Homo sapiens: one gene and its partners. The protein of the gene in region 1 interacts with the protein of each later gene in a pairwise test. Each region holds a gene or a part of one and is shown in the gene's direction. Other genes may lie near its edges. The genes, in order: DVL3, KLF3, FAM13C, NKD1, MAB21L3, ZBTB8A and ZNF581.

Evidence for each region.
Region 2: the proteins of DVL3 (region 1) and KLF3 interact in binary tests that used the Homo sapiens proteins (3 or more experiments, as listed by UniProt).
Region 3: the proteins of DVL3 (region 1) and FAM13C interact in binary tests that used the Homo sapiens proteins (3 or more experiments, as listed by UniProt).
Region 4: the proteins of DVL3 (region 1) and NKD1 interact in binary tests that used the Homo sapiens proteins (3 or more experiments, as listed by UniProt).
Region 5: the proteins of DVL3 (region 1) and MAB21L3 interact in binary tests that used the Homo sapiens proteins (3 or more experiments, as listed by UniProt).
Region 6: the proteins of DVL3 (region 1) and ZBTB8A interact in binary tests that used the Homo sapiens proteins (3 or more experiments, as listed by UniProt).
Region 7: the proteins of DVL3 (region 1) and ZNF581 interact in binary tests that used the Homo sapiens proteins (3 or more experiments, as listed by UniProt).

Annotation. Positions count from the first base shown.
Region 1 is NC_000003.12:184,158,032-184,162,159, forward strand, and holds part of DVL3 (segment polarity protein dishevelled homolog DVL-3), read left to right. Parts: intron 1-4,128. UniProt on the Homo sapiens protein: Involved in the signal transduction pathway mediated by multiple Wnt genes.
Region 2 is NC_000004.12:38,666,779-38,670,906, forward strand, and holds part of KLF3 (Krueppel-like factor 3), read left to right. Parts: intron 1-4,128. UniProt on the Homo sapiens protein: Binds to the CACCC box of erythroid cell-expressed genes. May play a role in hematopoiesis.
Region 3 is NC_000010.11:59,264,541-59,268,668, reverse strand, and holds part of FAM13C (protein FAM13C), read left to right. Parts: coding exon 1-116; intron 117-4,128.
Region 4 is NC_000016.10:50,642,204-50,646,331, forward strand, and holds part of NKD1 (protein naked cuticle homolog 1), read left to right. Parts: 3' UTR 1-4,128. UniProt on the Homo sapiens protein: Cell autonomous antagonist of the canonical Wnt signaling pathway. May activate a second Wnt signaling pathway that controls planar cell polarity.
Region 5 is NC_000001.11:116,109,833-116,114,609, forward strand, and holds the start of MAB21L3 (protein mab-21-like 3), read left to right. Parts: upstream 1-1,566; 5' UTR 1,567-1,678; exon of another isoform or gene 1,679-1,796; 5' UTR 1,797-1,978; intron 1,979-2,574; 5' UTR 2,575-2,783; coding exon 2,784-2,831; intron 2,832-4,777.
Region 6 is NC_000001.11:32,542,160-32,546,287, forward strand, and holds part of ZBTB8A (zinc finger and BTB domain-containing protein 8A), read left to right. Parts: intron 1-4,128. UniProt on the Homo sapiens protein: May be involved in transcriptional regulation.
Region 7 is NC_000019.10:55,642,270-55,646,556, forward strand, and holds ZNF581 (zinc finger protein 581), read left to right. Parts: upstream 1-1,379; 5' UTR 1,380-1,505; intron 1,506-2,283; 5' UTR 2,284-2,302; coding exon 2,303-2,896; 3' UTR 2,897-3,354; downstream 3,355-4,287. Other genes in the region: ZNF580 (zinc finger protein 580), read left to right, coding at 240-758. UniProt on the Homo sapiens protein: May be involved in transcriptional regulation.

The DNA of each region.
Region 1 (4,128 bases):
TCTAGTTTACAAATGAAACTCTGTCAGGCATGGTGGCTCACACCTGTAATCTCAGCAATTTGGGAGGCTGAGGTGGGAGGATTGCTTGAGGCCAGGAATCTGAGACCAGCCTTGGCAACATAGCAAGACCCCATCTCTACAAAAAAATTTTTTAATTAGCCAGGCATGATGCTTTGTGCCTGTAGTCCCAACTTGGGAGGCTGAGACAGGAGGATCACTTGAGCATAGGAGTTTGGGGCTGCAGTGAGCTGTGATGGTGCCACTGTACTCCAGCCTGGAAAATAGAGTGGGACCGTGTTTCAGAAAAAAAAAAAAAAGGAAACTAGAGCACAGAAAGCTTAAGTAACTTGCCTAAGGTCACACAGCTAATAAGAGGCAGAGCAGAGCTTGCTTTGACATCAGGAATCTGGATCCAAAAATCTAAATCCTTAATCGCACAATTTTAGGTGTCATTATTATCACCATTTTACTGATGAATCCTCTCCGAGGGAGGTGGTAAGCCTTGGAAAACTGTAGAGGTGACAAGGCCACCATTTCTCCGAGCCCCACAAGAGGAAGGTCAGGCGGAGGTCAGTGACCCTAGAGGAAGGAAAGTGGGTCAGAGGAGGAAGGCTGCTGTCTCTCCAGTTTCTCCACTCCTGGCTCAGCCTTTGAGGTGCTAGTTGTGAGGCTCCTCAAGTCCCATCTGGTCTACAAAAGTATTTGTCAAGCTCAGGGTAGGCCCAGCCATCTTTTTAAATTTTTTTTCTTTTTTTTTTTTTTTTGAGGAGTTTTGCTCTCGTCACCCAGGCTGGAGTGCAGTGGCGCAATCTCGGCTCACTGCAACCTTCGCCTCCCGGGTTCAGGTGATTCTCCTGCCTCAGCCTCCCAAGTAGCTGGGATTACAGGCATGAGCCACCATGCCTGGCTAATTTTAGTATTTTTGGTAGAGATGGGGTTTCACCACGTTGGCCAGGCTGGTCTGGAACTCCTGACCTCAAGCAATCCACCCACCTCGGCCTCCCCAAGTGCTGGGATTACAGGTGATGAGCCACCGCGCCTGGCCTGCCATCTTAAGTTATTTGAGAAATGGAGGAAGGATAAACATTTTCAGCATTGAGGGCATGGTGGATGGTTCATAGAAGTAAGGTGCCTACTGCTAGTCTGGCCTTGAGCTGTGAGAGAGGGCAGCATGGCGATCAGGTCATTAGCTGTGTGGCTTCCTGCTCCACTGTCCTCCCTCTGGGCCTTCCACCTGCAGACTCTTCTTCCCCTGTCTCCTCCAGGTTCAAATTCTCCTGTCTTCTGGGTTGAGCTTTTCTGTGAGAACTGTCATGGCACTCTCTTATTTTATCCTTTTTTTTTTTTTTTGAGATGGAGCCTGGCTTTGTCACCCAGGCTGGGGTACAGTGGTGCGACCTTGGCTCACTGCAACCTCTGCCTCCCGGGTTCAAACGATTCTCCTGCTTCAGCCTCACAAATAGCTGGGACTACTGGTGTGTGCCACCACACCTGGCTAATTTTTGTATTTTAAATAGAGATGGGGTTTTGCTACGTTAGCCAAGCTAGTCACGAACTCTTGACCTCAAGTGATCCGCCCACCTTGGCCTCCCAAAGTGCTGGGATTACAGGTGTGAGCCACCGTGCCTGGTATATTTTATCTTTATATCCTGACACCTGTGTAACACTCAGCAGATGTCTATCCATTGAACACATGTGCTGCTCCTACGGCTCCAACCACTTCCTGGATTGCAGTATATTTCCATGAACTATCCACTGGACCATAGTCTCTCTGAGAACAAGGCAGGCTCTGGGTCTGATGTTTCATGAGAAAACCTACAATAGCAAGCTCAGGACCTGAAACCCACTGGGCCCTCAGCCAAAGCATTTTATTTTATTTTATTTTTATTTTTTTATTTTTTATTTTTATTTTATTGTATGTTTTTTGAGAGGGAGTCTCGCTGTGTCGCCCAGGCTGGAGTGCAGTGGCACGATCTTGGTTCACTGCAAGCTCCGCCTCCTGGGTTCACGCCATTCTCCTCCCTCAGCCTCCCGAGTAGCTGGGACTACAGGTGCCCGCCACCACGCCCTGCTAATTTTTTTTTTTTTTTTTTGGTATTTTTAGTAGAGACGGGGTTTCACCGTATTAGCCAGGATGGTCTTGATCTCCTGACTCATGATCCGCTCACCTTGGCCTCCCAAAGTGCTGGGATTACAGGCCTGAGCCACCGTGCCCTGCCAGTCAAAGCATTTTAATTGGATGAACAATGAATGATGAACAGGTTTATTTGCTTTGCCCTTAATAATGTATACGTAGTTAGAAATAGTGTATGGATCCTGCTAAAAATGGACAATATAATTAGCTTTTACTGTATGCCTGGATCATGCCAGGCATTTAAGGATCCCTTTTACCAGGATGAGACAAAGGCTTGGAGAAATTAAGAAACTTCTCTAAGATAAGAGGGCCAGTAAGTGGTAGAATTGGAATTTGAGTCATTATTTGTTTGACTCCATTTGGGGTATGAGTGTGTGTGTGTGTGTGTAAGTGCTATGTAAACCCCAGCCATTCAGCTCCATGGTGGGAGAGTAAGACCTGTCTGAGGTTCCCCAAAGCTGCTGAAGATCAGCTGATTGTTTTGAGTCAGCAGAGCCTTGGTGGCCTGTCGATGACCCCCAGAAAGAGAGGAAACGTGTAGTGTGGAGCAGTGTGGTGGGGCCTGCCAGGGGAGCAGGGAGGTAGGGACTCAGCAGCAATTTCCCCCAGACAGGCAGACCCTATCCAAAGCAGGCTGTGCCATGTGGCCCACATATTCCCTTTTCCTTTGAGCCCTGTGGGGCTGCCAACCTGGAGTACCCTGTGGCCAGAGTGGCTGGTGGGTCTGAGCTACCTCTGTGTCCCTTCTTTCTAGCCTGTCCTTTCTACACTTTCTGCCATGGTGGGCCGCAGTAGGATGATTTGGGCTGCTTTCCGAGGGTCGCTGTGGCTCTGGGAATGATAGAGGAGCCAGAGCTGGATGGGAGTGGGGAGGGCAGGCTTGGCCTGTGAACTTGGCTGTGAGTCCAAAAATGTGAGCATCACAAGGGAGCCAAGCACATTCCCAGCTCTGGGCAGAAGCTGCTCTAAGAACAAGGGGGGCCAGGCACGGCGGCTCACGCCTGTAATCCCAGCATTTGGGGAGGCCGAGGTGGGCGGGTCACCTGAGGTCAGGAGTTCAAGACCACCCTGGCCAACACGGTGAAACCCTATCTCTACTAAAAATATAAAAATTAGCCAGGCGTGGTGGCAGGCACCTGTAATCCCAGCTACTCGGCAGGCTGAGGCAGGAGAATCACTTGAACCCGGGAGGCGCAGGTTGCAGTGGGCTGAGATTGCACCACTGGACTCCAGCCTGGGTGACAGAGCGAGACTCCGTCTCAAAAAAAAAAAACCAAAGAACAAGTGGGGACTGAACTTCCCAACCTCCTCCTTGCTGTCTTCCCTCTCTGCTCAGAGCTCCTGGCATGCGTCATCTTACCCTTGGTCATGTCTTCCCATCTCTGTACTCCTGGCATATTTGACAGTCTGAGGGTCCTCAAACTTTTCCACTCCCCTTCCTAGCCCCAAACTGTAGTTACTGCCTGACTTCTTGCCTCACCACATTCCCCCGGCCAAACTACATGCTCCGTGACCACATTCCACACCCTTCATGCCTCACATCATTGTCCTCCAGCACCCACTCTCCACATAGACCCACATTACCTCTGTTATTATATAGGAAAGAATGTGAAATACAGTGGAAAGAGTATGGATTTTGGAGTCAAGCCTGGGGTGAAATTCCAGCTCTGACATCTACCAGTCCTGTGACCTTGGACAAGTTAACTGAATACATCTCAGTTTCCTTATTCATGAAATGAAGATCATAGTCTGCCCACTGAGGCTGATGTGAAGATTATAGGTTCTAACTATAGGAAGATAAGGTGGTGTAATGGTAAGAATGCAGATGTTAGAGTCAGGCTAACCAGGATTCAAATTTCAGCAGTTTAGGAGAATTACTGAACCTATTGAGCCTAGTTTCCCCATTGTACCTGCTGCCTTATAGCATTGTTGTATTAAATGAAATTATATAAGTAAAGTGTTTAGCATAGTGCTTGGCCCATAATACTCATTTA
Region 2 (4,128 bases), on another chromosome or scaffold:
TTAGTTCTGTGACTAAAGGAGGCTTACAGTTGCTCCAATTTTGGTTCTGTGGGGTACCCCAATTGTAATCTGAATTCCTAACAGCAGTGCTCTATCTTTTTTCCTCTTGATGCACTGAGGCTGAACCATAATCATTACCCTAACTCGGAATTTGATCTGAGCTAGGGACTAGCCATTGGAATGGGGCAGAAAGGGACAAAAGAAATCAGGAGGGAGGCTAGTGTTCATTAGGAAGGTCTCTGCTGCTTGAATATGATAAAATCACATTTCACTTATGATGTTTACTGTATGTGGCAGCTCTTATTTGTAAATAGGGCAGGTCCCCTGTATAAAGCTGGTGTTATTATTCACACCCGTAGAACAAACACCTCCACCCCCCTGTTGTTGTCTTAAAAAACTCCAGCTGCTCATGAATATAGGGTCAGGGAGGGCCGGCTAAATGTTTCTCTGTGCTTTCTCTCCAGCACAGCCAGCAGAGCTGTTTCCTGTTCTTTGTTTCAAGGCTGGGGTTTGCGTCATACATTCCAAGTGGCATATGTGTGCTCTTTCCTGTTTCAGGCTGTTTTCTGGTAGATCAGTAGCCCAGACCAGGCTGAGGTCCCTGCCCCTAAACTCCGTATCCCCACCCATGGAGTTATCATGTCTCTACACACTTGATATTGCTTAAGACGCCTGTGTTATGTCATAATGAGAAGTCAGTTAACCTTTTTACGTACACCCTTTGCTCCACTGCATTTGTCTGGGTGAATAAATGCTTTTACCTTTTTAAATTTTTTATTGCTAGATTGTGATTTGGGGAAACGTGGGTCCATCCTGGCAAAGAAACCTAAAGGAGTTTTGTTTGTATTTGTTTGTAATTCTTGTGTTGAAGTGGTTAGGGCGTTTGTTTTAAGATAGGCATTTTGCCCTGAAGCTGTCAATTTTGGATCAGGATTAACACCTTACAGTTTAGAAGACCTAGCATTATCTGAAAGATGTGGCCCACCCTCGTTCACGTTTAACCCAGGCTGCTCCAGGTGGCTTCCGTGGATGGAGAATTTAAGCAATGTTGGCAGCCTGGCTTTAGTTTAAGTCTTGCTTATGTTTGGAAGGAGAAATCTTTAGAAAAATCATTGAAGCAAAGCCTAAGACATTGAGAAAATCCCGGGATTATTTCTTTTTAAGGACAAAGATTTAAATATCAGGATAATGTTTTAAGGACAAAGATTTCACTGTGCAATATTCTACACCTCATTTCCAACCCGTTTTTAAGAATTAAAAAGCTCAAAGGAGAACTGGCATTAACAAATTCATTTAATGCTAGATTGTTTGGAAAATTTTAATCTTCTATTTTGAAAACAAGAAGAATGCTCTTCTCATTTTTGTTTTACAATAATATTTTTCATTTTTTAAAAATATTCTATCAGTTGTGGGTTAATGAATTTCTAGGATAACTATTTAAGACCTGCCTTAATATTAGTTTTCTGTTGGTTCTTGAGAAACTAAGATTTAAGGAAATATTTGCTTGAAAAAGAAAAGTTTTGGAAAGTGCTTTTGTAAACTTACTTGGGGATTTTTTTTTTTTAATCAAAAGGAATCATCTACAGCATCTCTGTGGAATTAATTTAAAGAGTTGCTGAAGCAGCAAATCAGGCTCTCTTCTCCCCAAAATTGATGATAATGGTGCGTTTTAAATGTCACATTCCACCACATTCTTTATGTATAAATGGAAAATATAAAATATGATATTAAGAGAGTTATTAGTATCAAATAGTTGGCTACTGATAACCTTCTATGAAAAAAGCTGGGAGTTTTAGAAGTCCCAATAACTTCTTTCTCCTTTGGGAAAAGCAGCTGGAAATACTTAGCTGACCTGTAGGACAAGAGACTTTTAAGCTTAAAATTCATAAGTAACTCCAATCGAAGCAGGTTTTTTTGTTTGTTTTGGTTCCAAAGTTGTTAACAATCTAACTAGGTTTGGTAAACAGAGTCTTTATTTGGCTTTCCCCAAATTCTTTCTTCTCTCTTTTGCAGGGAGATGAAGTGGTTAATAGAGATAATTAGGGTCTAATATATTCTATCAGAAAAAAATTCTGCAAGCTTCTAAATGCTAAGCTGAATAGTTGGGGAAAATTATCCTATCTTATAGTTGCTATGATTACCAGAAAGATGGGAACAAGAGTTTTAATTTCTTAACCATATAAATCATGATTCCTAATTTAATTTCATTGTGTCTCCATCGCCCCTTGAGATACTTGCCTTCTTAATATTTTCAAATCAACATTTTTGCTATAAAACGACAGATTTCTTAGGCAGCATTTCTTGTTCTCTGTTTTCACACCCAGTTGAGTTTAAGAAAAATAAAATACACACAACCTCATTCTTTAAGGTACTAGGAATTACAATTACATTATTCTGGAACTTGGATTCTTTCTGAAGTGCATCATTTATCATTGGTTCTAGCTTTTTAAAAAAGCAAATCCCTAGAATCTTAAAACAATTGATATCTAGTTTGCTAGTATGTGATATTCTAGTCAGAATTCCTCTTGGGAGTGAGTTGGAAGAGGGTTATGGTGGTCGCTAGCATTCTCATTTTCAAGACCACTCTGTTCCTTTCTTAGACCATGTTTCTCATCTTAAGCAGTCATGCCCGAGCTGGAGACAGGAAACCAGACAGCAGTCTGCCCTGATAAGGGACAGCATTGTCTGAAGGCGGGGAATAGCCCTGCTTTTACCCCCAACTCAGCTCTCTTTGCTTGAAATTTAGTAGTCATAGAAGAGGCACAATGCTGTTGACAGTTTCTGAACCAAAACTAGGATTCATTTCTTCCAAAGCAAAAAAATAGTGTCCTCGGCCGGGCGCGGTGGCTCACACCTGTAATTTCAGCACTTTGGGAGGCCGAAGTGGGTGGATCACCTGAGGTCAGGAGTTCGAGACCAGCCTAGCCAACATGGCAAAACCCCATCTTTACTAAAAGTACAAAAATTATCCGGGCGTGGTGGTGGGCGCCTGTAATCCCAGCTACTCAGGAGGCTGAGGCAGGAGAATTGCCTGAACCTGGGAGGTGGAGGTTGCAGTGAGCCGAGATTGTGCCACTGCACTGCAGCCTGGGCAACAAGAGTGAGACTCTGTCTCAAAAAAAAAAAAAAAAAAAAAAAAAAAAAAGATGTCCTCTTAACTGGCCTTGTCCTTATTCTGTAATGAATGTGACCATATTCTCTGGAACAGTAAGAAAATAAAAAAATGATCTGTGCATTTTGTATCCGTTGGCCAGAGAGTTTGTAGTAAAATTGTTTCTTTAGCAAAACAGGCTCCTGGAGGTTTTTGAAACTCACTCCATTGTGTCGGCAGGCTGAATTCATTATCATTTCTCCATCTAATTATTTAGAAGGGCTGGAGACAGAAGAGAGCAAGTTAAGTGGCCCTCTAGCCCATGCATTTCATGTAACCCCTGGGTCTGGCTCTTACCCTGTTTCCTGTAAGGGGGCGCTCCCTGAGGCAGACCCTTTGCAGGAGGACCCAGAATTGCCCTGCTTAGTCTGGGACATCCTCAGGATGGTTGCCAGTCTCTGGAAGGCTTGTGGATCCTGCCAGGGATGGCCCAGAGCTAGTCTCAACCCAAATCAGTGGAGTTTGGCCAAATCTGGACATAAGAGATCAAATGAGTATTGAGGTCAGCGGATTCTGCCCTGGAGAGCGACCTGCAAATCAAGTGTGGGGTTTTTTCTCTGGCCTATATGCTGTTCTTTCTACTACCACTGTTGTTTAAGTGTAATCACTGAAATCCACTCCTTTATCTGTTCCTGTACTTTGCATCCCTGGTACCTTCCAAAGCTTCACACTCCAAAGCCTCTTTCATTTGTAAGATCGAGTTCCTGTTCCGCTGAGTTTCCAAACCAGGGAGTTTTTCTCTCCCAGGCTCCCAAAGTTTTCACATTTACTTTGCATTTTAGAAGATGAGGTTTCAGGCTGGCTTCACCAGCCGCTGGACAGAGTTTCCATGTAGGACACCTGGTGTACCATCATTCCAGGGCCCTTGCCCTTAATTTATCCTAGCATGTGAGAAGTGTAGTTTGACATCCATTCATTTATTCATCTCACAAGTATTTATTGAGTACCTACTTATTAGAGCTAATCTCAAATTATGT
Region 3 (4,128 bases), on another chromosome or scaffold:
GCTGTGGAGATGGCAAGGAGCCACAGACCATCACCCAGCTCACCAAGCACATCCAGAGCCTCAAGCGGAAAATTCGGAAATTTGAAGAAAAATTTGAACAAGAAAAGAAATACCGGGTAAGAACCCTGGGGTTTGACATAGGAGCGGATTGGTCAGAGGTGTCTGGATTCTCCTCAGCCTCTGTCCTTCCTTTCTGGGTGCCCTTCTTTGCCAGGGGACAGCTCTGTTCCCATGGGCCAACCTGGACCTATCATAGAGTCTTCATCTTCTATCTGTCTTGTTCTCACCTGCTGTCAGTTGATCTCTGCTAGGATATTTTCTAGTAATGGATTACAACTATTATTTCCAAACTTATTTGATTATTGATCTCACCTTTTTTTTTCTGAGGAACAAAATTTGGAAAGCTTTGAATTATGGTCTTCTTCTTCTTCTTCTTCTTCTTTTTCTTTTTTCTTTTTTTTTCACTTTTTCTCAATTGCATTTTGATAAGAACTTATTAAAGATCCAAGGGAGGGGTCTCCAATTGTGGAACAGAATGAGGGAGAGATGGTTTCTTTGACATTAAAGTATTTCCTTGTTGGTGAATGAGGACCTCTCAAGTGACATCTGTTCAGGCCACTCATAAGAACCAACCCTAAGCCTTCCTTTCCCCATCAGAGAGACACTAGTTTTCATGCTAGTACTGCACTGCAGCAAACATGAGCCTCCTTTCTTCTTATGTAAGAAACAATAGGGTCATAGGTAAGTGTCTTGATGGTCAGTGTTGCTTTTATTTTCTCCAGTAGTGACCATGGCATACAGAAAAAGCATATCCACAGAGAACTGGACAAAGACATTGGGTCTTCGGCAGAGAGCTCAGAATAGCTTGTTATTAGAATAAAAGAGAACAGGGAATAATCTCTCATACATCTTGAAATATTTAAAGGTTCACTAAACACTTGGTACAGAGGCAATTGGAAAGTTCTTGTGAGTATGAGAGTAAGTACTGGGGAGGGAGGTGAGAATGGATAATATTCCACTCTTCCATTCTTCCTGTCCTGCTTCCCACAGTGGCCTGAAATTCACTGAAGGAGGAGTTTTAAGGAGCAGATTTTAGCTTTGCAAAAATGGGGGAAAAATCAGTTTGGCTTTCAAGGCAACTTTAGTCAGGATGTTGAAGATTGTCTTCCCCAAAGTCAGGCAGTCACAGCTATTTATTGTCTTTTACAGAGCAGAAGGGAGCTCAACACATTATTAGTCCAGGATTTTATTTTACAGATAATGAAACTGACACCTGATGGAAATGACTTGCCTAAGATAGTTGTGTTCTATCAGGTCGCAACTTGGGTCAGTGGATTACAGATGAGTAGGTTCTGCAATAGAATAGAAGTAAAATTTTTAAGTGTCTGCTTTTTAAAAGATCCAGATATCCTGGGAGAAGTTTATTTCACCTGTTTGCTGCTGGCGTGTTACTGGATCTATGATGTCCTCGTATTGGAAAATACAGAGTAACAACCAGGGGCTCCATTCCCAGCACCTGTTAACACTTCTTATCTGGCAGTTCTTGAGTCAGACTATTTTGGATTTGAATCCAGCACGGCTACTTAAGAACTCTGTGATTTTGGACTTGTTATCTTTCTGAGTCTCAGTTTGGTCATGTGTAAAATGGAGTATTAGGTAGCGACTTCTTAAGTTTGTAAGTAGTAAATAAGGAAGTACATACATAATGCTTATTACAGTGTTTGGTACAAAGGAAGTAAATGGTCCTAGATAACACAAACTTTTTAATCTATGAGTTATATATTTAAATAGGCTACTCCATGGCAGTCTCTGCCTTGTCAGAAAATAAAGGAAAATTGTACATGTTAATTCTCCACTGGAGTTTTCTACCCACAGCCACAGATCTTGGATGCTTATTTTGGAAGAGAATTCCTCCTGGAAACATCTTCTGCCTTTGTCTAGAGTTTTCTGAAGCTAGAGCTCACATGCACATGCACACACATGTACACACACACAAACATAGACTTAAATACACATATGGAAGGACAGATCAGGGAGCAGTAGGGGAAGGAAGCTCCTTGGTCACCGCTGCTTCAGTGTCTATAGAAGTCTTTGTTATTATCAGAACCTCACAGGTCTCAGGAAACGCTTTTCCTTCCTGTCAGCATGCCAGGCTGTGCTTAGAGGTTTGACATGTCAGTGGGCTTTAACTGGTTGCTGTGTGTAAGGCTCCCCTTCCTGACAGCCTGACTGTGGAATTCATACCACCCATTGCTAATTTTTGAATCTGGGCTCCTGCTGGGCCTCTGTGCTATTTTGATACCCATGTATCACGTATATCTTTCCATCTCTGTTTACTGTAACCATTTTATATACCTACCCCAAATTCTCTACATCTCTACATCTGATTTTGCATTTGATTATTGGACTCTTGGGCTAAGAAAAGGCTGCGTCAGCCACACGTCTACCTTCAGTGGAATCAGGGAATGTTAGAATTGGAAAGAATCAGTCTTTTGTCTTATCTGACAACTGAAGATGCTGAGGCCCAGAAAGGGGAAGTGAGTTTCCCAGAATCACACAGCAAAGAATAGTTCTAGCCAGAACAGCAACTGAGGTCTTTTTATAACCCTCCCAGTAATTTTTCTAATGTGTCTTTTTGAACCATCTTTGGCAGATCACAAATCTCATACAATGGCACTTAGGAGGTCAATTTTAATTGCATTGAACAAAATCTAAACCTATGTAATTTCCGTGTGTATGACGTTTGGGGTCTTTTGAATCAGAATATTTCACTTAAGAAGTTAAAAGTCTTGAAGATCTACAGCTTGTATATGAGAACTTTCCATGTGATTTGAGAGCTGCCATCCATGTGAGTTTGATTTAACCCTTTTAACAGCTTCTTCAAGGGTAGGGAAATAAATTCATTTCAGAAACTGATTTCAGGCTTTAAATTATTTTGTCAGAAATTTAGCCTTAAATTTCTTCTAAGTTCTATGCACCGTAGTAAAAACTTATTTCTTTTGCAGTCACTGGCTTAAGGCCTTAGGATTTTGTGTGTGTGTGTGTTTGTTTTTACCATATTTCAAAAGATGGAAATAACTGTGTGGAACAGATCCAGTGAAGCATTGTTCAACAAGGTGTGTTCTCAGATCGGAGTGGAGAATTCTCTAAGGATTTTGGGAAACCAAATGTAAAACATTGACTTTCCGTGTAACCAGACTGCTACCCAAACCAAAGTACTAGACGATACAGTGCATCATTCTAGCAAACCATAGATAGGACTAGGCTAAGCTGTTTTAGAGAGCTGGGGATTGATGGCCACGTGTCACTGTCCATGGTCCTGAAACCAGGATTCCCCCCCCCCCCCGCCAAAACCCCTTCCCTATCCCTCTGCCATCCCTCAGGGAAACCAGTCTGCTATTCAAGCTCTTCTAGGAAAGAAACATTGTCAATCTTCTTTTCTATTTTAATTTTAAAATGTATGGTTTTTAAATCACTTTAGAACTGACAGAATCATGCCTTGTGTTTTACAATGAGCATACCTAAACTCATGTACACGTGATGATCCTGTCACACAGTAGTTTTTTCCTTTGAGTTTTAAAAATCTGCCATCTTCCTGTGCCTCCCTCTCACCAACAACCTGCCATTGTTACATGGATTTAGTGGATCCTTAAAGAAAAAAAATGACAGAACCCCTAGATTTGGTCATTAACAATGCACATATTTCAGGCTATTATGTTTATGATCATGTCACCTTGAGCATATTTTATACTTCCTTGTACATCCTTAATTTAAAGTAACCATTAATTTTCTTCAGCCTGCATGTAAGTTCCTATGGTAGCCTTGACTTGTTTAAGATCAGTTTTTACTGATCTGTGGGGGTAGAGGGACAGTATGTTTGACTACCACTAGTGAAGATATTAGAAATCCGTGTATCCCCCTAACAAACTGACTTCTCGGGAATATTGTCAGGTTTTAGAGATTCCGGAGTCTCCTTTCTTTAGCTTAGAGGATATAACTGATAAGAGCTAAATCTTCCAGTTTTTCAGTATTCTCCCACGGGTTATGGTCATAAGCATGTGTGTGAGCCACAAGCAAGGTAGTAACCACTGGTTTGTATCAGTGCAGTCATCTGCAGTGCTACAGAAA
Region 4 (4,128 bases), on another chromosome or scaffold:
CATGGGCAGTCTCAGTAGGAGTCTCAGGCCAGGCTCTGTCTGTGGATTCCCACTTCTCTGGGCTGCATCTCACTGTTCAGGCTAGAGTCTGGTCCTTGCCCATCTGCAGGTCCAGGAAGATGTGGCCCCAAATTCTCTGGACCTGATGTCCTAGATCCTGTGCACTTGGCTTCATGGATAGAGTCTGAGAAGGTTGCAGGATCCAGTAGCTGGACCACAGAATGCAGCCTGGGGGTTTGGCTAAGATGAGCAGACTGGCCCATGGTTGAGACTTTGGACCTGAGCTGAGTCCTGGTTCTACTACTTCCTAGATGTGTGACCTGGGACAAGTGACTCACCTCTGTGCCTTGGTGTTTTTCTCTAACATGGGGCTAATTGGGGTAACTACCTTACTGAGCTGTTATGAGTAAATGATCCAGTGGGCGTGAAGCGTTCAGCGCAGAGCCTGGCACGTAATAGGCCCTCGATAAGTAAAACAGCAACAGTAGCTGCAGTTAGGAGAATGTGACCCCAGAAGGCTCATGGGAAAGGAGGTGCAGTCCTGATGGATGAAGGGTACCTGTCCTCCACCCCGGCTGCAGAGCCCCCAGTGAGACAGCTGCTGTGGCATGCTGCCTCTGCTACACACTCAAAAAACACTTGAGGACATGACTTTTCCCTCTCAAGTTTGATGGGATCACTCTGTTCCTTCCAGACCCGACTTGTGGTGTGAACTTGGACAAGCCCCTGCTGTCTCTGGCCTTCAGTACCATATTTGTATTATGAAACTGCCCTTGGCTTGAAGCTAGACTATGGGGGTGGCAGCTCTAAGTCCTACAAACAGTAGGGGTAGTGGTGGGGATGGGCAGCCTGAAAGCCATGCCAGCAGTGCCTTCCTTGGGGAAAGAGGTGGCCTCTGGAGCAATGCTTCGCTACCCTACATCTGGGTCTGTCCTTGCCCAACTCCTAAGCTGCAGGATCGCTGAGGAGTCCACATTGCCATATCTGCCACTTACAGAGTGCCTACTGTGCACCCAGCCCACATTCACTAGTGTCCTCAAAACAGCCTTGAGAGGAAACCAACGAGGAAACAGAGTTACAGTTCAGTTAAGCAACTTACCTAACTTGTGGCTAATGCATGGTAGGATTAAACATAAGCCTGACATATGCTAGCCACATGACCCTCCCTTTCCAGGAGCCTGCTGGCATTGATACAGGTTGACAAAGACCAGTCCTACTCCGTTGTCTGCCATTACTCCAGCCAAGTCCAGGGACACGTGAGGCAAGGGGAGCTGGGGCTGCTGGTGTGGCCGAGACCTCAGCCTCAGCAAGATGGTGCCCCAAGCTCTCAGGGTGCCCTGTGGTCCCCTTCATTCATAACATTGATCATGTTTGTAACTGTAGTTGATTCTCACTCATCGCAGTAGTTACATCTTATAAAGTCACCTCTGACACTGAGTTAGCGCATACTGAACTACTGATCCTAGGGGAAATACAGGGTTAGGTTCCTGCCAGCTTCTGGTCACAACATTTTCATTACCAATCAGTGCATAACCTTGTTTTATGTGTGCTTCTGTTTAAAGATGCCTAATTTACTATATATTCTTGATTCGTTAACATTGAACTCAGCCAACAGCTCTATAACTCATGACTGAATGAAGCTTATCTAGCACACATATTTTCTCTGCAAGGCATATCAGAGCCTTCTGTGCTTAAGAGCACAAGATGGCACTTCAGCGTCATGCCTGGGGAGCATTTTAAGCAGCCAAATCACCAACACAAAGCACAAACATGCACAAAGCATGATGCTAAACAGACTGTGAGAAGGATGTTTGTGTATAGGATGAGAACTGAACCACGAAAGCAGAGCATCATCTTGTTCGACCTCAGTTGAGAACATGTTGTCGGGCCACTCAGACTTTTCACTGCTCTGCGCATATCACGAATGAAGTGAATGCACCATGAGTATTGATTTTGGGTGATAGACAAATTTTAGTGAATAGGCAATTTCGTAAATACAGAATCCACGGAGGGTGAGGATCCACCGTATGTACTTATCTATGCCTCTAATTATTTGGTTTCCACCAAAGCACTTGTTCACCAGATTATCTTATAATCCCAAAGGCCCAGCAAAGACAGGTGCTTGTTCAATGTCTGTTGAGCGACTGAAGGACAACACATTCCTGGCCTCCCCACCCGCCCCCAGCGGGACCTAGCACATGGCCTGCTGTTGACACTCCATGTGTCTTTGTTGATAGAATTCATAAAGACAGATGGGAAAAGGGGCACCCCTCTTGCGGGTTCCTGATGCTGAGAGTTGTTGGAATGTTGATGCTGCCCCCAGAGAAGGGTGACAGCATGCAGACAGACTGGAAACCCAGAACCTCCTGGGGATATTCAGATGGTGTCACTGGGCTCGGCCTGTGGGCTCTCAGCACATCTAGGTACTGGGGCCCAGGGTGACTCTGAGTGGCTCAAGTCCCCTGGCCAGATCCTCTCCAGATGGGCCCCTGGCCATCTTAGCCAACATCACCTGATTCTGTTTCCTCTGACTCTGTCCTCAAAAGGCAGCATCTGATTGTGATTTGGTCCAGAAATTCCTGGCCAGAATATTTCCAGTGTGGTGCATGTGAACTTCCCGCCTTCCCTTCCTTCCCTCCTCCCTCCTTTCTTCACTGGGGAGAAAGAATTTGGCATTCGAGTATCTCACCCCGTCTTGCTAAGCAGTTTAGTTAGACTGCAGGCCAGTCTCTGTGGTGTGACCACCCCCCAGTGGCAAGGAGCTGCCAAAACTGAGCTTCTGGGCAAGACGTGGGCAGAGCAAAGAGAGACCCACACTTGGCACTTCCTGCCCAGAAAGGACCTGCTCAGGCCTGGCTGGCCTTTACCACCGTCATCTCCAGGCTTTCTGTTCATCCGTACTTTCAAAGATTTAGTGATCAAGTACTATGTGTCAGGAACCATGCTCAGCACTCGATAAAACAGACATCATCTCTACCTACCTTTGTGGAGCTTTAATCTAGTGTGGGGGACGGGGGGACTGCTTCCACCCAGAAACGACATTTTTATCCACTGCGATAACTTCTGGGGAGACATGGGAGGGAATAACAGAGGGGACATGATGGAGATGGGGGACTGCAGAGGGACTCTCCAGGAAGCCACATTTAGGGGGTGACCTCAAGGGTGAGGAAGAATTAGCCAGGTGGAAAGTTAGAGGGAGCAGCTGGTACAAGGGCCTCAAGGGTGGATGGAGGGTGAACGCTTGATGAACTGGTGCAGGCCTGTATGGCCGGGTACAGCTGGCAACGAGGAGGCCCGGTATGGGCAGAATCTGGGGGCCTGAATGGTGGAGAGTCTGCTTGTCACCCCAAGAGACACATCAGGAAGCTAGGTGGTCAGTCGGGAGAGAGAGGATGTGACACTCTAGCCACCACCACGCAGAGAAGGGATTGGAAACAGTAGCCCGGAGAGGAGGCTCTCTTGGTAGGATCCCACGGCAACCGAATGGATGCACGTTGTTTATGACGTTCTTACCCATGAAAGCGCTCAAGGATCCGCTTGCTTGCTTACATGTGGGATCAGCACTACCTTCCGTGCTGCCGAACATCTTCTTAAGCGAGGGAAAGAACAAAAAGAAAAGTTGGCAAGAAAGAAAGGGCAAAGACAGAGAGACTGGGAGAGAAAGAGGCCCCAATTTCCTCTCTCTGGTAGTTGCTGAATTGGCTCTCGTGAAGGCAGAAAGGGAAGGGCTGACTTATGTCCCTCTGCCAGGAGAGGGGAAAGGAGGGAGGCATGATATTGACTTAAACGTGGGGGATTTAAAAGGCCCCTATGTTCCCACTTTGTGCTTTGCTTCTAACAGACAGCCTGGGACCTTTGAAGTCGGTCTGGCCCAGTGGGGAGCGGGCTTCTGTGGAGACAAGATGCTAACGGGGGCGGGGGAAGGGGGCCAGGGGGCGGCCGAAACTCTATTAGGCATGCTCTAGCAAAAAGAAAGGCAAATCCAATGATAATGTACATCTGTTTCAGGGAATTTATAAGCTTTGAACATTTTTTATGGGCAGATAAGTGGGTCCTTTTCTTACCATAACTTAGAACTTCAAAGCTGAGTGTGTGGATAATGCAAATTGCTGAAATATGAGATTTTCC
Region 5 (4,777 bases), on another chromosome or scaffold:
TCTTTTAAAAAGTCAGAGTTTGTTCCTGGCTAATATGGTGAAATCCCGTCTCTACTGAAAATACAAAAAAATTGGCAAGGCGTGGTGGCGGGCGCCTGTAGTCCTAGCTACTGGCGAGGCTGAGGCAGGAGAATGGCATGAACCTGGGAGGCGGAGCTTGCAGTGAGCCGAGATTGCGCCACTGCACTCCAGCCTGGGCGACAGAGCGAGACTCCGTCTCAAAAAAAAAAAAAAAGTCAGAGTTTGTAATCCTGCAAACTTTAACAAATTTGTATATTTAAGGTTGATTTTGATCAAGCTAACCTTCCTCCTTCTTGGAATTAAAATCTCAGACACTAAGTAAATCAGTAACAAACACTTCTGCTGGTAAACCAGGGCTAGCATTATCTCCCCGGGACTTCTCAGATTGGCAGCGTAGGGTTTTGCATGCCTTGTTAACCTGACTTGTAATAAGTTCTTAGTCTTCACAATGGAAACTGAGCCAAAGCAGGTTTACATTTCCGTACTTGCATTTGGTGTGAGTCATGAGAAAGGAGAATATTTATTTTCTGAGGAAGGAAGAGAACCTGAGCTAACTTTGAATTTCCTCAGTGGCCTAGCATACAAGTGCCTTAGGCTTACTGTAATTCAATCCTTTTGCGAATCCTATATCCAATTACCCAGATATCTACATCTAAAAAAAGCTTGTCTTCATCAAACTGTCAGACAGGAGCTGTCAGAGAGTCTATTTGTGGGACTGCCCTGTATTTCAGAGCATTTGCCCATAAGGAGCTAAATCATGGAGTAGGGAATTGGGTTGTGCCCCCACAACACACCTATTCCCTGGATATGACATCCTGGTAAAATCGGACTGTGTAGCTTCCCTGAGCACATGATTATTTCTTCGTTTCCTGATTGCTCAGTTGGCCCTGTTGGTTGCTTTCCCTGCTCACAGCCGGCAATTGTCGCTGGATCGTAGGGCAAGAGAATATTCCAGTTATAACATTTTGATCAGCTGCGGTACTGGAGCAATCAAGATAGGGCAGCCACAGGTGCAAAAATAATGAAAGTTTGTGCATCTGATGACAGGTGTCTGGGGTAACCCTCGAACATTAGGAAAGACCCCACCGGAGGAAAGGGACTCACAAGTTAATGATTACAGTGAAAGCAGAAGTAACAACAAAAATGAGCACATGAGAGAAACAGTGGGACTTTCGTAATGTTGAAAATGAGGTGGAGAGAGAATTCTAAATTGCAAGTTCAGAGAAAGAGGCTCTTGCTGTCTGTGAAAAACAAATAGTTTGGCACTACTATGATAAGAAAAGCCCAGGGAATAAGATTCTGAAAAATTTGGGAGCACTTGATATCAAAAGAAGGAGATTTAGAATTACATATAGAAACAAATGGAAAATCAAGGCTGTTTTGAGGGGTGCTATCAGAGGGTCATTGGAGAGGATGTAGCTTTACAATATTTATATCAGGCTGTGCATTGGCAGGAGTTCTGTAGAAGTTGGACTGAAAGCTGGAGGTAATGACGTGGGTGGGGCACAGAGCAGCTAGGGAGCTCTGATGCGGCTTTTGCTTGGGGCAGAGTATGGGAAGATATGCAAACGCTGAGGCCCCAAATAGTGCAGTGGCCTTTGTGGGCAGCACTTACAGGTGGGCTTGGAAACACTTGCCTTTGGAACATTGTTTAAAAGTAAGTAGTGCTCCCAGAAGGGCTGTAATTTCTTTAGATTATCTGATAGCAGACTCCGTGATGTTTACCAGCTTCAAGGAGATCAGACCATTGTGAAATTTTTTTTTTTTTTCTGTAGTAAAACTAGCCCCAGCCAGCCCAACTGGGAATTTACTGCCTGAGCTGTTTTCCAACATAAGTTTTGCTGGCAAAACCAGACGTGAGTGTTCCCTCGACTCTAAAGGGACCTGTTTACACTGACTTTATTTTTACTGCCAGCTTTCAAGTTGGAAGAGGGAAATTACGTTTAAAGGTCAGCAGGTGAGCAGAAGGATTCCTGACCAGCCATTCCTGTGGGTGTGTGCCCGTGTGCACTCTGTGTACGTGTGTGTGCCTGTGTATATGTGTGTGCCTGTGTGTACGTGTGTGCCTGTGTATATGTGTGTGCCTGTGTGTACGTGTGTGCATGCTTTTCTAAATGCCAACCGTTGTGCTCTGCGCTGGCTGACAAGACCTGATCACTTGTTTGCGGGCATAATGATGGGTGTCAGGCTGGTTGTTGGGCAGTTTCCTATTTGTTTATTGTAAAGAAGGTAAATCAATCCGTGGGATTTTCTGGCTTGGAGAGCAAGGGGTGTTTACTGTCAACAGGATAAGGACCAGGAGATATAAGATACTGAGTTCCACGGTGCATCTAGTGTTGGGACAGGAGCATAAAAGGTGGGGAGAAGCCAACTACAGGGTATTTCTGACTTGGATGGAACTTTTAAGTACTTGGGTGGGAAATACAATTTGGAAAATTGCTCTCTGGTGAAAGCACCAGTCAATGTAGCTAACTAAGGTATGATTAGGTTGGACTCAAATTCAATTTTATCAACTCTTCTTTTTAAATTCTTTTTTTTTTAATTTCCCAAAAGATGACAGATGGATTTTCACAATTTGGAAATAAAAACATGAGTGAAGGGTTCGGAAGGCAAGTCTCTGGTCCATTACACACTTCCAGAAAAACTTAGTACCCAGAGACTCACATTACTGGGAGTGCTATCTACTCACAAGTGTTGCACTCCATTGAGAAAAAAAAAAAAACCAGGAAGTTGCTGTTCTACTGAGGACTGACCAAGAAGCCATGAAATACCTTACTGTGGGAGACTTAGAAGATTGCCTACTGAATAAGGTAAGGACAGACCCGGTCTCTCCCATGAACCCCCTCCCCATTCACACTACTTCCAAACAAACCTTCGTCCAGAAAGGATCTCAGGCTCTTTCTAAAGACACATAAAATGCTCCTCAGAAAACAGACTGTCACCTATAACAATGTTTGGGGGCTTAACATATATCAGCCTTACTTCTCTTTGAGGGTCTGGTACCCAGAGACATGCTGAGTATAGAATATAGAATGGAGAGTAGGAATCTGGGGAATGAGGGGGAACTCCAGCTCTGCCACTGACACTCGTGTGGTTGTGAGTCACTTAACCTGCCTGAGCCTTGGCCTTCTTCTCTGTAAAATGGGAATAATAATAGGAGCTTCATGGGGTAATGGAAAAAGAGCTAATGAAATTAAAACAAAGCTTTTTAAAGACTGTGAAAGTACTAGGTTTTTAAATATTATTATATTTTTAGTACACATCAGTTAAGAACTTAATTTCTTCTAGATGGTCTAGATGGTCATGTCAAATGTTAGAACTTGAAGGAAACTTAAATATTACCTAGTTTAAGCCTTTTCATTTACGGATGAAGCTACTAAGGCATGATGTTAATGTTAAAACCAAAATATTTAAATTGACTAAGAAGTAGGCACTGGTCTGCAGTTTTCATGCCTTTACAAGTTCGAAAGAGAAGATCATTATCATAGTGATAAGTAAAATGTATTTCTTAGGCAAAACCATTAAGAGAGATAAATAAGGAAAACCTGGGATGATAAAAACTAGAGTAAACAAAGTGATTTCCCATTAATTCCTCCCTTTGAGGGCTCTAAGTGGAAGAGATATTGGCTGGCATTTTTTTCGTGGGTCCTGTATTTTTTGTAAGAAAAAACTCCAAACTTTTTAGTGTGGTGTTCAAGTAACTTCAACTGCTCTATCTTTCTACCCTCCGCTCCCCCTGCATTTCCAATAGCAGAAATCCTAAACAGTGTTCGACACGTTGAATCCAGTGTGTGCTCATGTTTTGTTTGGCCTGTAGATTATTTCTAATGTTTTTCACAAACATTTCAAAATAGATTTTGCATAGAAATCCAGATTTCTGTCTTTCCAGGGGAAAAAAATCAGAATATTTCGCAACTACAGGTCCCAGTTTCTTGCCTGGAAACTGTGTGCTGGGGCTGAGTGTTTGCTAGCCAGAGCACGTGCTGGCCAATTCTCAGGAGGCTGATCCTGTGTCTGACACTTGCTCCTGGTCCCCGCTGCCTCTCTCACGTGTGTCCCCTACTCCATTCCTGTAGGTGGTTGAGTCTCCCATTTCTGCCCAACAAGAACTGGGCCCTGAGCAGGCCAAGGGCCCCAGCTCCTCCTCGCCACTTTTCTGGCTCATATTCATCCTTCAAACTCAGAGTCCACTTTCTCAAGAAAGAGTCCCTGACACCCCAGCACAAAATGATTTTGCCCACATATTCACTCCCGTTATAATTAGTATTACTGGCACCATTTATTTGATCATGAGTTTGTATATTAACTCCTGACACTTTTCTATTATCATCTTGGTTGGCAACTTACATGTCATATCATTTCATTCTTTATAAGTTTCTGGAGGGAAGAACAGTGTCTTGCATACCTTTCTTTCCTTTGACATTCAGAGTATCTTGCACATATATGATCAGAAATATCTTTAGAGTTCGTTAAAGGCAAGAGTGGTGTGGAAGGCGACAGGTCAAGGTGCATACAGGATCTCATTTAACCTAATCAACAACTATGTGATGTACATATTGCCTCCATTTTTAGAGGAGGAAACAGAGGCTTGTGGAGATTAAATAACTTGTCCAAAGTTACACAGCTAAATTGAGAGGGTACTGAAGTTTCAGCCTTGTCTTCTTTACTCCAAAGGCCGAACGTCCTCTGCCAAACTCCTCTATATCTCTGCAAACACATACTAAGCACCTGCTTTGTGCAAAATACTGTGCTACGG
Region 6 (4,128 bases), on another chromosome or scaffold:
TATGACTCAGGAACGTTTGCTAAGCAGGCTAACAAGATTAGTTTTGCTGACCCTGGTGGGACACATTAAATTTTAGATTAATGACTATATATCTTAAAAGAGTTGATCTTCCCAGCCGAGTGTGGTGGCTCACACCTATAATTCCAACACTTTGGGAGGCCAAGGCCTCGGGGGTCGGGGGGGCGGGGTGTGGATCACGAGGTCAGGAGTTCGAGACCAGCCTGGACAAGAAGGTGAAACCCCATCTTCTTTACTAAAAATACAAAAATTAGCACACAGTGGCAGGCACCTGTAATCACAACTACTCGGGAGGCTGAAGCAGGAGAATCACTTGAACCTGGGAGGCAGAGGTTGCAGTAAACCGAGATTGCGCCACTGCACTCTAGCCTGGGCGACAGAGCAAGACTCCGTCTCAAAAAAAGAGAGTTGATCTTCTCAACGACAACCTTAGTTCAAGTTACACTCGCTACTTAAATCTTCAGTCTACTCATAGAAATACATGTCATTGGCTTCTATTCCAAAGACTTTCGAACTTAATGGTTCCTAAAATGTGTAATTGTCTTTCCCAACCACCTTTTTAAAGATCATTGAACTTGATGGAAATCTTGAATTCTGTTATATTCTTGGGACTATTATAATATTTAACTCTTACAGATATTTAAAATGTTTCCATTTGGATTTTGGATGTCCCATATAAATTGATCTAACTTGCTGTTTCAACGTATAAAGTCACTCTACTGAAAGAAGAAAATCTGAAATGCATTACCGATTTCCATGACCTAATCACATAATTCTGAAAATAACTTAAACCTTTTTTGATGACTCAAGAGTACTACTATGAATGCATGTTATGTTAAAATCCTTTCAATGTGAATATCAGGTTGTAACTGACCCCAGTGTATAGGACAATTCCTATTTTTTTTTTAGATATAACTTTTTTTGAGACGGAGTTTCACTCTTGTTGCCCAGGCTGGAGTGCAATGGTGTGATCTGGGCTCACTGCAACCTCCGCCTCCCAGGGTCAAGCAATTCTCCTACCTCAGCCTCTCAAGCAGCTGGGATTACAGGCACCTGCCACCATGCCCGGCTAATTTTTTGTATTTTTAGTAGAGACGGGGTTTCACCATGTTGGTCAGGCTGGTCTCAAACTCCTGACCTCAGGTGATCCACCCGCCTCAGCTTCCCAAAGTGCTGGGATTACAGGTGTGAGCCACTGCGCCTGGCCTGAGATATAACTCTTACGCCATAAAATTTACCCATTTTAAAGTGTACAATTCAGTTTTTTGATATGGTCACAAAATTGTGCAACCATCATGACCCTCTTAACTCCAGAACATTTTCATCATTTGCATAAAGAAACCCCATGCCTGTTAACAGTCACTCCTATTCCCATGTCTCCCTAGCTCCTGATAACCCCTCATCTACTTCCTATGTGGATCTACCCATTCTGGGCATTTCATGTGAATAAAATCATAAATAAAATATGTATTTTTTATGACTAGTTTCTGTAACTTAGCATCAGGTTTTTTGTTTTTTAGACAAAGTCTCGTTCTGTCACCCAGGCTGGAGTGCAATGGCGCGATCTCGGCTCACTGCAAGCTCCGCCTCCTGGGTTCACGCCATTCTCCTGCCTCAGCCTCCCGAGTAGCTGGGATTACAGGCACCTGCCACCATGCCCGGCTAATTTTTTGTATTTTTAGTAGAGACAGGGTTTCACCGTGTTCGCCAGGATGGTCTCGGTCTCCTGACCTCATGATCCGCCCGCCTCGGCCTCCCAAGGTGCTGGGATTACAGGCATGAGCCACCACACCCAGACTTGTTTGTTTTTTAGAGACAGGATCTCACTGTCACCCATACTGGATTGTGGTGGCGTAATCCTGGCTCACTACATCCTTGACCTCCTGGGCTCAACCAGTCCTCTGCCTCAGTCTCCCAAGTAGCTGGGACTACAGGCTCACGCCACCGTTCCCAGCCAGCATGAGGTTTTTAAGGTTCACCCATGTTGTAGTATATACAGTCATATGTCACTTAATGATGGGGATATGTTCTGAGAAATGTGTTGTTAGGTGATTTTTGTTGTTGTGTGAACATCATAGAATGTACTTACACAAACCTGGCTGATATAGCCTACTACACGCCTAGGCTGTATGGTATAGCCTATGGCTCCTAGGCTACAATCCTGTATAGCATAATACTATAGGCATTTGTAAAACAATGGTAAGTATTTGTGTATCTAAACATATCTAAACACAGGAAAGCTGGGCACAGTGGCTCACGCCTGTAATCCCAGCACTTTGGGAGCCCAAGGTGGGTGGATCACCGAGGTCAGGAGTTCAAGACAAGCCTGGCCAACATGGCAAAACCCCGTCTCCACTAAAAGTACAAAAATTAGCCAGGCATGGCGGTGGGTGCCTGTAATCCCGGCTACTCAGGAGGCTGAGGCAGGAGAACTGCTTTAACCCAGGAGGCGAAGGTTGCAGTGACCTGAGATGGTGCTACTGCACTCCAGCCTGGGGGATAGAGCAAGACTTTGTCTACAAAAATAAATAAACAAATAAATAAACACAGGAAAGGTACAATAAAAATATGGTATTATAATCTTATGGGACCACCGTCGTATATGTAGTCAGTTGTTGACCAAAATGTTATGCGGCGCGTGACCATATCAGTACTTCATTCTTTTTATGGCCGAGTTACATTCCATTGTATGGGTATACCACATTTTGTTTACCCACCTGTCCGTCAGTGGACATTTGGATTGTTTCCACCTCTTAGCTGTTGCAAATAATGCTATTATAAACATTCGTGTATCAGTTTCTGTGTAGACGTATGTGTTCATTACTCTTGAATATATACCTAGGAGTGAAATTGCTGGGTCATATGATAACTCCATGTTTAATCATTTGAGGAACTCCCAGACTGTTTTCCAAAGTCGCTGTACCATTTTATATTTCCACCAGCAGTGTGTGAAGGTTCTTACTTATCTATACTCTGGCCAACACTTAGTATTTTCATGTTTTTTAAAAAATTATTATATCTCTGGAAAAACATGGAAAAAAAAGAAAATATAGAAAAAGAAGAAGAAAAAAATTTTAAAAAATTATTGTAGCAAACTATCCTAGTGGGTGTGAGGTAGTATCTCATTGTGATTTTGATTTGCATTTCTCTAATGATTAATGATGCTAAACATCTCTTCATGTGCTTATTTCTATTTGTCTTATTTAATCTTATTTATTTTAGCGATTATCTTATTTAATCCTCTTAACAGACTTCCTTAGAGCCTCTAAACAGTCAATAACCTCATTTTACAAAAAGGAAACGAATGCTTAGAGTTAAGTAACTTGACAAAGTCACACAGCTAATGATTGGTAGACCTATAATCCTGTGTTTCTTCTTTTTAAAATCCTTCAGAAGTGCCTCAGAACCCCCAAAACTGGAGGGGCTTCCAAGATCTAGCTCTTACATACTTTTCTAGTTTCATCTTCTGCCATCCTTCTGTAGGCCCACAGTCTCTAGCTATAGCAAACTTCTTACCATCCCCTAGGAGGCCATGCTGTTTAATACGCTGTTTTTGCCTTCCCATTTGGTGCTCTCTCTGGCTAGAACGCCTTTTGCCCTCTTTCTCATGTATAAACTTCTTTTCATCCTTCAAGACCCAACCTAAACGTTGAGCCTTTTGGAAATGTTTCTCAATACTACCAGGTACAATCATTTGCTTTCTTTGTTTTACAGTTCCCTTCTACTATGAGTATTTTCTTCATTGTATTGTCACTTTGTCTAGAAGTCTCTTCTCTTCCTGTCTCTTCTCTGACTCTCTCTCTCTCCTACTAGACAGTGAGCTGCTTGAAAGTGAGCACTGACCTTTGACATTTCATCACCTCTATATTCTCAGGACCAGGTATAGTCTGGTATAGAGTAGTTGCTCAATAAATATGTCTTGAATAAAATGCGTTTCACCTGCCAATTTGAGTATCTGCCCTTCTCATAAAAATAGAGTAAAAGGGCCACATACAGTGGCTCACACGTGTAATCCCAGCACTTTGGGAGGCCAAGGCGGGCAGATCACTTGAGGCCAGGAGTTTGAGACCAGCCTGGCCAACATGGCGAAACCCTGTCTCTGTTAAAAAT
Region 7 (4,287 bases), on another chromosome or scaffold:
GGCAGGTGGTGGCGGGGTTTTGCAGAGCTCAGTTGGAGGCCCTCTCCGAGGCAGCTTGATGGAACGTGGGAGAGCCGGGCTGGAGTCACAGTTTTTATTTTGCTAGGGAGGTAGTCAGTGGCGCACAAAGGGTAACAAGCAGTGATAGTGGGGATGCTTTCCATTTTAGGAAACTTTTCCTAAAAGGAAGTGGCAATTTTAACTAATCTCCCCTCCGCCGCTCCCAGCTGCCGCTCCAGATGCTGCTGCTGCCGCCGCGGCCACCCCACCCTCGGTCCTCCTCTCCGGAGGCCATGGACCCACCGCCCCCCAAGGCTCCCCCTTTCCCCAAGGCGGAAGGCCCCTCCTCCACTCCTTCCTCGGCGGCGGGGCCCCGACCCCCGCGGCTGGGCCGCCACCTCCTCATCGACGCCAATGGGGTCCCCTACACATACACGGTGCAGCTGGAGGAGGAGCCCCGGGGCCCGCCCCAGCGCGAGGCGCCCCCAGGAGAGCCCGGCCCTCGCAAGGGCTACAGCTGCCCGGAGTGCGCCCGTGTCTTTGCCAGCCCTCTGCGGCTGCAGAGCCACCGCGTGTCGCACTCGGACCTCAAGCCCTTCACGTGCGGCGCCTGCGGCAAGGCCTTCAAGCGCTCCAGCCACCTGTCGCGGCATCGCGCCACGCACCGCGCCCGCGCCGGGCCGCCGCACACCTGCCCGCTCTGCCCACGCCGCTTCCAGGACGCCGCGGAGCTGGCGCAGCACGTGCGCCTCCACTAAGCTCGAGACCCGGCCTGTGCTGCCCTGCCCGTCTCAGGGCCACCAAGTCTGACCCACACAGCGTCACTCACTCCCACACACACCCCCTGGCTCTGCTGAGGTTACTGCCTTACCCTGGGCCTCAGTTTCCCCACCTTCCAAAGGGAGGAGCATCATTCCTTCCTTACCCCCTTTCTAGCTGTGTGATGTAGACCAAAGTCGTTGCCCCTCCCTGGGCCTGGGAACCAGTCGGAACTGGGTTCCAGTCCAGCTGTGCTGTGTGAGCCTGTGCAAGTGACATGACCTCTCTAAACCTTGGTTTTCTGCTCTCTGGAGCGGTGAACCGGTGGTTGTCTGCGGGGAAGAGATGATAAAGAGCACGGGCACGGTCTGGTTCATTTCTGTATCTACCCCCCTTCCGCCCACGCCCCCGACCCTTTGCTCAATAAACATTCCGCACTCCATTTTCAGGCTCTTCCTTGCGTGTGCGTGCACGTTGGGTGCTGGGGGGTGGAGACCGGATCTTCCTCGCTTGGGTACTTTCCTCTCGGTGTGTGTTTCTGGCCGGAGCCGTTTCGCGACGGCCCGGGCGCCCCGCCCCAACCTTCCTTCCCTAGACCCTCTTCTCTCCCTTCGGCTTCTCTCTTTCGGCCGGCGCCGCCAGTTCCTGGGGCACACCCAGAGGTCCCCTTCTCGCCGCCGCCTGCAACTGCGAGGGTAGCCCGGGGCCGCTTGGAGTCGCCCGGACCTGAGAGGCTGCTGCACTGGGTACGGGGGCCGGGAGGAGGAAGGGGGCTGGGGGCGGGCGGCGGGAGGGGCTGGACCGCGTGGAGGGTACCTGGGCCGGGGCGGGAGTGGGGCAGACGCCGGAGGGGGCTGTTCTGGAGCTTGGAGGGGGCGAGAACTTACACAGAAAGGCCCAGAAAGCGAGGGCTGCGGCCCCGGGGGTGGAACCCCGGAGAGCGCTGGGACCTAGAACGAGCCTGGTGGAGGCCGGGCGAGGACTAGAGAGAACCTGAGGTGGGTGGACGGGTGGGAGCACGGAGTTGTTCAGACACGTGGCTGGAGAGAGGGCCGGAACCTGGGGGTCCTAACGTCGGAGCCCCTGTGAATAGGCTTGGCTTGTATGGAGGGGGTCAGGAAAGGCTTGAGTATGTAGCATAGGCCAACACGCAGACCCTGGAAAGGGCTAGAAGGAGGGGAGGGAGAGGCCTGGAGGCCTGCGGGGTGGGGCACCCAGTGACCTGGGAGGGCACAAAGAGGAAGGTTAGAGCGAGGTCCAGGTTGTGCAGAGGAGGTCAAGAGATCCTGTGAGTACAGTGTATGGTGGAGCACCGAGGCTAGGAGAGGTTTTCCAAGGAGGAAGACCCTGGGGACCTTTTAGGGGGCCACAGACTCCAGCTGTGAGCGGGACTGGAAAAGAGGGACTGAGGGGCAGCAGGATGCAGAGGTCCTGGGCCGGGTATAGGGAGGGAAAAGGATGGAGCCTGTGGTGCTGAGCTGCCCTCTTCTATATAACCTTCTTATCCCATCTCCCATCCACCAGGCCTCAGCCAGCCCTCCGGATGCTGGTGCTGCCATCCCCCTGCCCTCAGCCTCTGGCATTTTCCTCCGTTGAGACCATGGAGGGCCCTCCCCGTCGGACTTGCCGCTCCCCAGAACCTGGACCTTCCTCCTCCATCGGATCTCCCCAGGCTTCATCTCCTCCAAGGCCCAACCACTACCTGCTTATTGACACTCAGGGTGTCCCCTACACAGTGCTGGTGGACGAGGAGTCACAGAGGGAGCCAGGGGCCAGTGGGGCTCCAGGCCAGAAAAAGTGCTACAGCTGCCCCGTGTGCTCAAGGGTCTTCGAGTACATGTCCTACCTTCAGCGACACAGCATCACCCACTCGGAGGTAAAGCCCTTCGAGTGTGACATCTGTGGGAAGGCATTCAAGCGCGCCAGCCACTTGGCACGGCACCATTCCATTCACCTGGCGGGTGGTGGGCGGCCCCACGGCTGCCCGCTCTGCCCTCGCCGCTTCCGGGATGCGGGTGAGCTGGCCCAGCACAGCCGGGTGCACTCTGGGGAACGCCCGTTTCAGTGTCCACACTGCCCTCGCCGCTTTATGGAGCAGAACACACTGCAGAAACACACGCGGTGGAAGCATCCATGAGCCGGGCTGCCGGGTGCCCCAGGTACCACAGGACTTTGCAGGGAGCCTGGACTCCTGTCCAGACACCTGGTGAGAGCCTGAGGCTGGTGTTCAGGGCCCTGGACACAGACACAGAGCAGCCGCATCTCAAAGGCAGAGCCCTGCCTGAAGGAGGAATCCGTGAGTAATCTTCAGGTCCTCCGTGTTCTGGAGCTGAGATGGGAATGAGCCCCTACACAGAATGGAGTCCTCTAGCCTAAAGATATCAGCTGTTCCATGGCAGAGCCTTGACTGGATGGAGGTGGGGAGTGTGGTGTGTAAAGTCTCTGGCCTCATAAAAGGTGGCTGTGGGTCGTCAGGAATCTGCGCCATCTTCCTGGGGCTTCTGCGCTGTTGTTGGGGAAGGGACCCCAGTCCTGCCTTCCACCCCCCAACCAGGCCTGAGACTGATCAAACAATAAACACGTTTCCCACTCTGAGCACTCGAGGTTTGTTTTTAGAGACAGCATCTCAGACCCTCTTTGGTGGCCGTCTAGCAGGGAGACCTCAGCTTGCCTGGCTGGGGAATGGGAAGGTTGGCCTGCCTTGGGGTTATCCCCTCCTCAGCTCCTGAAGACCTGGGTCATCTGGGAAGAATGTTTTTAACTGAAACAATTTTAAAACCACAATCTCCTGTTACAAACACATTTTATATGGCAATAGAGTATACAGATAAGCAAAATACACGTGAACCAAGTTTCCTTTTTTTTTTTTTGAGACGGAGTTTCACTCTTTTTGCCCAGGCTGGAGTCCAATGGCACAATCTCGGATCACCGCAATGCCTCCTGGGTTCAAGCGATTCTCCTGCCTCAGCCTCCCTAGTAGCTGGGATTACAAGCGTGTGCCACCATGCCCAGCTAATTTTGTATTTTTAGTAGAGACGGGGTTTCTCCATGTTGGTCAGGCTGTTCTTGAACTCCCAACCTCAGGTGATTCACCTGCCTCGGCCTCCCAAAGTGCTGGGATTCCAGGTGTGAGCCACAGCGCCTGGCCTCTTTTTTTTTAGACGGAGTTTCGCTCTTGTCACCCAGGCTGGAGTGTAATGGCGTGATCTCAGCTCACTGCAACCTTCACCTCCTGGGTTCAAGCGATTCTCCTGCTTCAGCCTCCCAAGTAGTTGGGGTTACAAGCGTGTGCCACCATGCCCAGCTAATTTTGTACCTTTAGTAGAGATGGGTTTCACCGTGTTTGTCAGGCTGGTCTCGAACTCCTGACCTGAGGTGATCCACACACCTCGGCCTCCCTCAGGGCACTAGGCCTCGAAACAAAAGTTTTTTTTTTTTTTTTCTTTTGAGACGGAGTCTTGCTCTGTCGCCCAGGCTGGAGTGCAGTGGCGCAATCTCGGCTCACTGCAAGCTCCGCCTCCCGAGTTC